Linked DNA regions of Homo sapiens: region 1 is linked to region 2. A link means that fine-mapping ties the variant in region 2 to the expression of a gene that starts in the linked region. Tissue or cell type: whole blood. Region 2 holds a variant in brackets; the other region holds the start of a gene. All regions are shown on one strand. Distances are from middle to middle. Region 1 holds the start of TMEM92-AS1 (TMEM92 antisense RNA 1). Region 2 has its middle 28 kb from the start of XYLT2.

Evidence for each region. PIP is the estimated chance that this variant, and not a neighbour inherited with it, causes the effect.
Region 1: TMEM92-AS1 starts here. The variant in region 2 is the best candidate, but not a certain one, in a credible set for the expression of TMEM92-AS1 in whole blood (TOPMed, PIP 0.84).

What each region holds. Positions count from the first base shown.
Region 1 is chr17:50,285,743-50,290,742 of GRCh38, reverse strand. TMEM92-AS1 (TMEM92 antisense RNA 1) reads left to right here and starts at 2,888. Exons shown (of 4, transcript NR_125805.1): 1 at 2,888-3,003.
Region 2 is chr17:50,315,178-50,320,626 of GRCh38, reverse strand. No RefSeq gene overlaps it. Among named protein-coding and RNA genes, the nearest start is that of XYLT2, 28 kb to the left of the region's middle. RefSeq lists enhancers at 1,446-2,024, 2,025-2,604, 4,325-4,454. The variant G/T (reference allele first, on the strand shown) is at 3,412.

The DNA.
Region 1 (5,000 bases), 30 kb after region 2:
GTGAGGATACCCGAGCGGGGTCAGGGATAAGCAGCACACACCACGTATGTGTTTTGAGATGTTACCTTCTCGGCAGGTTCTGCAGAGGATGGGGTTTGAAGCTGCCTAGAAGCTGCCCTCTGCCCCAGGATCCTTAATGAAATACCATTTGGCTGTGGAGGTTCAGGGGACACTAGAGGGCAACGGGCTGGATGATGTCAGCGATTGTGGCTCTCTGGGCTCCCCCAGGAGGGTTCCTGGGAGTGGGGGCCAAAAGCTTCTGCCTGTCCTGGATGAAGATCTGGCAAGTCTTAGGTAGTTCAAAGCGAGGCTCACCAAGCCACTTGCCCCTCACCCACTTCTTCCTGAAACCCCAGCGTAAGTGCCTCATGGGGTTGTAAAACCTGCCTCTAGCAAGCCACTGGGAACTAACAAACACTGTGGTTCTGGGGACAAGTTCTTGGCTGGCTCCAGACACCATCTTGCTACACATTTCCAGGATGTTGAGTCATCTGTTTAGCAAGGACCAGTCTGATTCAGGCTCACTCTGTTAGCCTCATATATTACGTGGCCCAGGAGGAACTAAAACTCCTGAAAACCTGCCAGGGCCCATCACGCCCCTCTCTGTTAGCCTGAAACTTCAGGAAAAGTCAGATCCACACAGCAGCTTGATTAGCAGTGCTTGTCAGGGGTGGGTGGAGCAGGAAGAATGCTGTGTCTAGGCTGGGGTGGGGGGATAGGAGGAGAATGTCAGCTGTAGGAGCCAAGGGGACTGGCAAGGAGCTGTGCAACCACGCAGGAAAAGCATCTGGATCCTCCCTTGAGCTACCCAACTTTATATTAAAGGTAAGGGTGACCTCGGAAGGCTGGGAGTTTTGGGGATTCACAGGTGGCCAACACTGGAGTGGGTCTCTGATCTCTTTTTAGCCTCGGTTAGGAGGATATTTGTTGGCTCAGTTTAATCTGAATCCTGCATGAGAGTTTTGCAAAGAGATGAAGACCTCCTTTGATCCTGTCTTCCTTGTGTGAGAGCTCAGCCACAAATAGAGTGTAGGGTCCTTTCAGTTTTCACCTCTAACAACTCTGACTTTGTTCTCTCCATTCTCAGCTTCCTGCGCCAATCCCCCAGGTCCCAGATCTCCAGTTATATTTCAGGGGTCTTCTATTTTTATCCTTTCCCCTTTGTTTTGTGGATAAGAGGAGGTTTAGGTGCATTTCCCTCCAACTGAGGACTTTGGAAATCTTGGCAGGCTTTGGAAATGTCACATGGCGTGGCAGGAGGAGCGGCTGTGCAAAAACAAATGAGTGTTCCCATCAAGATGTTTGCAATTTAATTCTAGCCTAGCTACTCACTGACCTCAGCCTTAGGGATGTCATGGACTTTCTCAGGATCCATTTCTTCATCTGTAAAATGAGGGAGTTGGTCTATAGGCTACTTTAGGCTCTTTGGATTGCAAGTGATGATAAACCAACTCAAACTAGCTTGAGCAAAATAAGAGATGTCACTGGGTGCTGTGGCTCACACCTGTAATCCCAGCACTTTGGGAAGGTGAGGAAGGAGGATTGCTTGAGCCCAGGAGTTCTAGGCCAGTCAGCAACGTAGTGAGACCTCATCTCTACAAAAAATTTTAAAAATTAGCCAGGCTTGATGGCATGTGTCTGTCATCCCAGCTACTGGGGAGGCTGAGGCTGAGGCAGGAGGTTCACTTGAGCCTGGGAGGTCGAGGCTGCAGTGAGCTGTGTTCACACCACTGCACTCCAGCCTGGGTGACAGAGAAAGACCTTGTCTGAAACAATGAAAACTAAGACAAAACAAAACAAAACAACACCCCCCAGCCCAAATGAGAGATGTGTTAGCTTTTTGGTTGCCAAGGAAGGGAGGAGTAGCTAGGCCATAGTAAGGCAGCTGGATTTCAGAAACAAACAGAAACAGGCATCGCAAGGTTAACAGGACTTTCTCTCTGTCTCCTGTCTTTACTTTCCTTTGAATGTTGGCTTCATTCCTTCTCACTCAACCAGGTTTTTTCACATAAGGGGCTAACATGGCCACCAGTGGCCCCATCTCCATCTCACACTTTTACTACCTGAGCAATCTAGGATCGGACAGATTCCCTGAGCTCCAAATAGAAAATTCTCAGGGAAGGGCTCTGATTGGCCCAGATTGGATCAGTGCCCACCCCTGAACCAGTCAACCGTAGCCAGAGAAGTAGGATCAAATGGCTGCCCCCAGTTCCACAGTCATTATGTGAATGAGGGTGGGGGTGGGGGCAGATGGAGACAATTCCAAGAGAAGCCAGATGGCTGGGCATGTGGCAAAAATGTGTGCAGTATAACCTGTTCTGAATCTAATTGTTGATGAAAGTTCTGCTATTGCTGTGTCAAAACACAAAATTGTCTTCTTGAGCCTCCAAAGTGATCGCAGCTCACTGCAGTCTCGACCTCCCAGGCTCAAGTGATCCTTCTGCCTCAGCCTCCCAAGTAGCTGGGGCTACAGGTGTGTGCCACCATGCCTAGCTAATTTTTCTATTTTTAGTACAGATGGGGTTTCACCATGTTGGCCAGGCCGGTCTCAAAATCCTGGCCTTAGGTAATCTGCCTGCCTCAACCTCCCAAAGCGCTGGGATTACAGGCATGAGCCACTGCACCCAGCCCATAAACAGTGCTTTTTATTGGGTACTAGAAGCATATGAATAGCAGAGCATAAACCTAAATTTGATCTAATGACCTTTGACAGTGTTAAAAGCTCTGGAACCTGGAGACAGGAAACCAGTTTTTCATACTTTTTATTTTGAAATTATTATAGATTCACAGGAAGTTGCAAAGATAGTACAAAGTGGTCCCAATTTTCTTTGCCAAATTTCTCTCAATTTTTTTTTCCAGACAGGTCCTTGCTCTGTTGCCCAGGCTGCTGTGCAGTGGCATGACCATAGTTCACTGCAACCTCAAACTCCTGAGCTTCAGCGATCCTCCCACCTCAGCCTCCCAAGTAGTCCCATAGTCCCAGCCCCTGAGCTGGGACTACAGGTATGTGCCACCATGCCTGGCTAATTTTTTATAGAGACGGGGTTTCACTATATTGCGCAGACTTGTCTTGAACTCCTGGGCTCAAGCAACCCTCCTGCTTCAGCCTCCGAAAGCACTGGGATTACAGGCAGGAGGCACCTGACCTCCAAGGGTTACAGGGTTACATCTCTTTTTTTTTTTTTTTTTTTTGAGATGGAGTTTCATTCTTGTCCCCGAGGCTAGAATGCAGTGGTGTGATCTCAGCTCACTGCAAACTCCGCCTCCTGGGTTTCAGCAATTCTCTTGCTTCACCCTCTGGAGTAGCTGGCACAGGTGCGTGCCACCACTCCTGGCTAATTTTTGTATGTTTAGTAGAGACGGGGTCTCACTATGTTGGCCAGGCTGGTCTCAAACTCCTGACCTCAGGTGATCTGCCCACCTCAGCCTCCGAAAGTGCTGGGATTACAGGGGTAAGCCACCGTGCCAGGCCCTCCAAGGGTTACATCTTATGTAAAGTATCAAAGCCAGGAAACTGACGTGGGTATAATGTGTGTGCCTAATTCTGTGTTGTTTTATCACATGCAAATTTGTGTAACTACTACCTCTTCAAGTAAAATGCAGAACTGCTCCCCCACCAAACAGATCTCTCTGGTGAGACCTCTGTGTAGCCATACCCACTCTCTCCCCATCAACAACTAATGTGTCTCCATCGCTATCATTTTGAGGAGGCTGAGTTTTAAATCAACTTCCGACCCTCTCAGCAGTGTGACCTTGGATAAGTCATTTGTCCTTTTCTGGATGTTGATCTTCTCAGCTAAAGTAAGACAAGGTTGGCTCACATCAACATTCCTCTTGAATTTCCACAGGCTGATATGATCTGAAAATGCTACGGAGATTATGAGAAAGAAAATGGGGTTTTATGGTGAAATAAACTAGGGAAATGATGCTTTCCATAAATACATAATGCTTCTTTACCGTGAATTCTCAGCCCTTTAATACACTAAGGTGAACTGTGAATCTTCTAGTGTGGGAGGTATACGCAGCATTTTCCAAATTTATCTGAACACAGAATGCTCCCCCCACCCTTAAAAAAATCCTCTAGAAAAAAAATCACTTGGAACTAGTTTTTCAGGGAATATGCTTAGAGATATGCTTTTTCAGGTGACCTCTGAGGTCCTCCTGCCTCAGGGATCCCACCCAGATTAAATGCCTAGAAATATATCCTCCCTCGTGGGTTAAATTATGTATCTTCAGCCAAAACCTACGAGTGTGACCTTATTTGAAATAAGGGTCTTTTCAAGTGTAATTAAGATAAGGATCTTGAGATGAGATCATTCTAGTTTAGGGTGAAGTCCAAATCCAACGAAGAGTGTTCTTATCAGAGACAGAAAAGGGGGACACGCATAGACACAGAAGAAAATGATAGGCTAGGCATGATGGCTTGCACCTGTAATCCCAGTGCTTCGGGAGGCTGAGGCAGGAGGATTGCTCAAGCCCAGGAGTTCCAGGCTGCAGTGAGCTATAATCACCCCACTGTACTCCAGCCTGGGTGACAGAGCGAGACCCTGTCTCTGAAAAAAGAAAGAAGGAAGGAAGGAAAGAAAAAGAAACAAAGAGAAAGAAAGACAAAGAAAGAAAAAAAGAAAGAAAGGAAGAAAAAAGAAAAGAGAGAGAGAAAGGGAGAGAGGAAGAAAGGGAAGGGAGGGAGGGGAAGGAAGGAAGGAAGTAAGGAATGAAGGAAGGAAGGGAGGGAGGGAGGGAATGCTCTGTGCTGTAGAGGCAGAGTCTGGAGGGCAGCCATAAGCTAAGGGCCACAGCCGCCAGAAGATAGGCAAGGGCAACCTTAGCCATGCTTGGATTTCAGACTTCTGGCCTCCAGAACTGAGAGATAATAAATTTCTGCTCTTTTAAGCCACCCACTCTGTGGTTCTTTGCTACAGCAGCCTGAGGAAACACATAACCCTCTTTTCAGACTCTTGGGGTATTTCATTTTTATTTATTTTTTGTAGAGATGGGGT
Region 2 (5,449 bases):
GGCTGGTGGAACCTTATCCTGTCCATATGCCAGCTGATGCAGTGTCTTTCTTCATTCAGGACGTTCTAGATCTTAACTTAGGCTGGAAACAGGACAAGGAATCATGACTTTTTGTTGGGTGGTTGATGTTTTAAAATAAGCTCTTGGGCCGGGCGCGGTGGTTCATGCCTGTAATCCCAACACTTTGGGAGGCTGAGGCAGGCGGATCATCTTAGGTCAGGAGTTTGAGACCAGCCCGACCAACAAGGAAAAGCCCCCATCTCTACTAAAAATACAAAATTAGCTGGGCTTGGTGGTGCATGCCTGTAATCCCAGCTACTTGGGAGGCTGAGGCAGGAGAATCGCTTGAACCCTGGAGGTGGAGGTTGTGGTGAGCTGAGATCACACCACTGCACTCCAGCCTGGGCAACAAGAGCAAAACTCTGTCTCAAAATAAATTAAAAAAATAAAATAAAATAAGCTGTTTTTGGCTGCTCATCTATCTTACCACTAGGAATATTATGTTCTATTAACCATTTCCGGCTTGGCATGGTAGCTCATACTTGTAATCCCAACACTTTGGGAGGCCAAGGCGGGCAGATCACTTGAGTGCAGGAGTTCAAGACCAGTCTGGGCAACACGGTGAAACCCCATCTTTACTATTAAAAATATATCTTAAAAAAGAAAGGAAAAAAACACCATTTACTTAGTTCTCTGCAGCAGGACCTCTGGCTGCCTCCCTGACCTTGCTGCTCAGTGTGAGAATCGTGCCCACCTTCTGACAGATAAGTGCTGCTATCAGAGGCGTTGAAACCAGAGCAACTCCATCTTGAATAGGGGCCGGGTAAAATGAGACCCACTGGGCTGCATTCCCAGACAGTTAGGCATTCTAAGTACAGGATGAGATAGGAGGTTGGCACAAGATATAGATCATAAAGACCTTGCTGATAAAACAGTTTTCAGTAAAGAAGCCGGCTAAATCCCACCAAAACCAAGATGGTGATGAAAGTGACCTCTGGTCGTCCTCACAGCTACACTACCATCAGCGCCATGACAGTTTACAAATGCCGTGGCAATGTCAGGAAGTTACCCTATACGGTCTAAAAAGGGGAGGCATGAATAATCCACCACCTGTTTAGCATATCATCAAGAAATAACCATAAGAATGGGCAACCAGCCACCCTCGGGGCTGCTCTGTCTATGGAGTAGCCATTCTTTTATTCCTCTACTTTCTTAATAAACTTGCTTTCACTTTACTCTACAGACTCACCCTGAATTCTTTCTTGCGTGAGATCCAAGAACCCTCTCTTGCGGTCTGGATCGGGACCCCTCTCCTGTAACACTGCCACTTGGCCTTGATTATTTTGGGCTCCTCTTATCCCTATTACTATCAGCTCCCCCCACCCCCACCACCCCGCTCTGTAACAGCATCTCCCACCCTCACGGCCTCCCCGAGAATGGCCAACGATAGACTTCTCGATGCTGCTGCTCCTCCTCCACCAGCACCTTCTTTACTGCTTTGGTAAAAGAGTGATTTATGGGCTCTCCCAGGGAACATAGTCAGCTGGGGAATTTGCAGGCCCGACACAGGCTGATCCGGTTGAGCAAACCCTCTCCTTTGATCCATTTGATCCCTTCTGCCATCTGCCATGCTGTTTGAACTTTTCTCCTTAACTTAGTTTGAGCCAGTGCTGTTTCTAGGCTTCCAAGAGCCATTCTAGCACCTTCTCCTGGGGTCCTTGCCAGGGGGTAAAATCCTGCATCACAGGAGCACACTCCTATTCAATATTCTTTCCTATCAAGCTCTATGTTTTGATCCTCATCCTCAGAATCCAGTCCCATCTCTACTCTCCTGAATCCTGCCAGCACATGTTGGCAAGTTCCTGCAGCTCCTCCAGGGTACAGTCTCATTCCTTCCTCAGCAGCAGGTCTGGCGCATCCCTGGCCGGTTTTGTTGTGACTTGATAGCTATTTGTCTGGTGGCCAGGAGGGAGGTGCATTTCATCTTGCAAAGCAGAGGCCCTGCACTATCTTCAAGCATGAGGGGAGTTTTAGCCCTTAACAGTGGGCAGGGGGCCGCTTCTGCAGGCCCAGTGGGTTCAGTGGAATCTGGAGATTCAAGATTTTTTTAGTGCATTGACCCAGATGTGCCATCCCAAGTCTCTGAGTTCTGATCCTTCTCTACTGGGGTATGACCTGACAGAGCGGACGTGCTCTGATTGAGAATCCAACCTCTCTGAAGCTGCATTACCCTTATAATGAAGCTTCGGGCTGATCCTTAGCTTTTTCTGCCCTCCAGCTACAGAGTCTCTATATGCTGCCAAGAGACTTTCACACTTTGTCTCAAACTGATGATTAAGTACTCTCAAACTTTCATTGTCTTCCTTTAAGCATTGCTAGCCCCAGAGCCATCTGATTTCACAGTCCTTATATTACTAGTTCACTCAAACCTCTCAAATGCCTGGGAATTTGCTTCCACCAGTGCCTCCCTTCCATCAGTTTCCCATCATTCCTGCACATCCCCAGTGAAAGTTTAAACAAGTACACCACGCTAGAATGCCAGGGGCAATTATTGCTCCACCTTCCAGCTCCAAACACCTATTTTAGAATCTGCTTCCTAAAAATTACTCCTGGCCTCAGCTGCCTCATGTCTGGGTCCCTCCCTGCCAATAGATTTGTGATGGATATTTACACGCTGGAAGTGACTGGGCCATGGTCTCAGAAACAATACTTGTAAGGTAGTAAACGAAGCAGGTTGAGCAGAGGGAGAAGTGGAAAAGTGGAACTGGGTTGCAGTTGCAGCACAGCCTCAACTGATGCTAAAGGGAGCTTTGGACCTGAGGTGGCCCTTCAGAGTTGTCTCAGATCTAGGCAGGAGGACTACGCTTTTGTACTTCTGCACTGACCAATCATTGGCAGATCACATAAAGCTTGGGCTAGGCGGAGGATAGTCTTTGGATGGGAATAAATAAAGCCTGGGCATTTATGAACATGAAACAATGCCTGAAGGCTCAGCTGCGAGAGCTGTGAGCCATCAGCAGCCAATCTTCCCTACAGCTGGAGAATGAGTGGTCTGGTTTTGAAGGGGAGAGAGAGAGGTAGTGCACTCTAGGAGCCACTGACCTGAGGAAGGGGTTGACCCAGCAGAAGACAGAGAGGAAGGGCATAAAGACACCAGGTTCTTGGTGACATCCTTTGAGCTGCAGGATGAAATCCTGCCTGAAGCCACATTTCAAGTATACATTTCAGGTAAGCATGTAGGCAAGTTCTCTTTGTTTAAGCCACGTGAGTTGGGATTTCTGCTGCTGGATAAAATCTTGCCTGAAGCGGCATTTTATTTGCACTTTTCTCTAAAGCATGCAGGCAAATTCTCCTTGTTTAAACCATGTGAATTGGGCTTTCTATCACTTGCAACATAAAGACTCTCCATGG[G/T]CTGGGCATGGTGACTCAGGCCTGTTATCCCAACACTTTGGGAGGCTGACAAGGGAGGATTGCTTGAGCTGAGTTCAAGACCAACCTGGGCAACATAGTGAGACCTCATCTCTACTACAAATTTAAAAAAATCAGCTGGACATAATGGTGCACGCCTGTAGTCCCCGCTACTCGGGAGACTGAGGTGGAAGGATCACTTGAGCCCAGGAGATCAAAGCTTCAGTGAGCCATGATTGTACTACTGCACTCCAGCCTGGGTGACAGAGTGAGACCCTGTGTCAGAAAAAAGAAAAGAAAAGAAAAGGCCAGACACAGTGGCTCATGCTTGTAATCTCAGCACTTTGGGAGGCCAATGTGGGAGGATTACTTGAGCCCAGGAGTTCAAGACCAGCCTGGGCAACATAGTGAGACCCCATCTTTAAAAAAAAAAAAAAAAGAGTATCCATGAATTCAAGTACAAACTTTAACAGTTTATTGCCTTTTTAAAAATCAAAAGCTAAAATTAAATTTGTGATTTGGAAAATTTATTAGTAAAAAAGGTTTCTGCATAAATTAATGATGGTTCTTTTCTTGCTCCATAGTGCTACCTGAATACGGACTGAAAATTACTTATGGAAATATTTACAAGCTTATACTGCAGTGTAATTGGTGCTTGTTTGAGTGCTTCATTAATATTTAATTTTGCATCATTTCTTGAGCTAACTCATTGGCACATTTTCAGCATTCCACTGACAGACTTAACATAAATCACATTAATAATAAATGGCATGAGAGCTTTTTGTATTTCTTTTCTGAGCTATCATTTAAAGATAATTTTCTATGACAGGGAATTTTAAATGTACTATTAAAGATAAGACTTTCTTAATGTCTACTTCAGCAACCAACAGGAAATACAATGTGATTTTAATTACATTTATGTCTTGGGTTTTGACACAGTGCTTTCTGCTATTAACTCTTGTGAAGTGTACGTCTTCATAAAGCATTTTCAGCCATCCATGAAAAGACAGACTTGCTCAGACAAGTACTCGAAACTTAAACTATACAAGCAACTCCATGACATGAAGCAAGACAGATGTTTCTTTGTGGGAACTGGGGCTGGTCATGCTTGTCCGAGTGGCAAGGACCTAAATTCTTTAGGTGGCCAATATTTCTGTAGTCAGACAGTCTCCCCAAAGCCAGAAAGAGTGGAACCCACAAATTCCCTGGTCTCAGAAGAGAACATCAGCTTAGCTTGGCAGGGCTGTCTTAGGAGCCTGTCTCTGCAGGCTCACTGTGCTCATTTCTAAATGTACACCTGCAAAAGCATGAAATTAACACTTTAAACAAGTCACATTTGCCAATAAATAATTCAAAAGTTTTATGTGGAAAAGAGAAAATATGATAAACCACTGAAAGCGTATCTTTAAAATGCATGTCATAATTAAGAATTAACCACCAAAATTTAAAAAAAAAACCCTTAAAATAGTTTAAAATTCTTTTTTTTTTTGAGACGGAGTCTTGCTATGTCACCCAGGCTGGAGTGCAGTGGCGTGATCTCAGCTCACTGCAAGCTCCACCTCCCAGGTTCACGCCGTTCTCCTGCCTCAGCCTCCCTAGCAGCTGGGACTACAGGCGCCTGCCACCACACCCAGCTGTTTTTTTGTATTTTTAGTAGAGACGGGGTTTCACCATGTTAGCCAGGATGGTCTCAATCTCCTGACCTCATGATCCACCTGCCTCGGCCTCCCAAAGTGCTGGGATTACAGGCGTGAACCACTGCACCTGGCCAAAATAGTTTAAAATTCTTAAAAAACATTTATGGCAAAGCACATGGATACTGAAATTAAACACAAAAATGATTTCCCCCCCCCATATTGCTTGTAGAACAGTCAGGATTCTTTTGATTGCGAGTGACAGAAATCCAGTATAAAAGGCAATAGTAGATTAAAATAACCAAAAATGCCTGTTTTGTTACAAGTAAGAATAGGGGCCAGGCGTTATGGCTCACGCCTGTAATCCCAGCACTTTGGGAGGCCGAGGCGGGCAGATCACTTGAGTC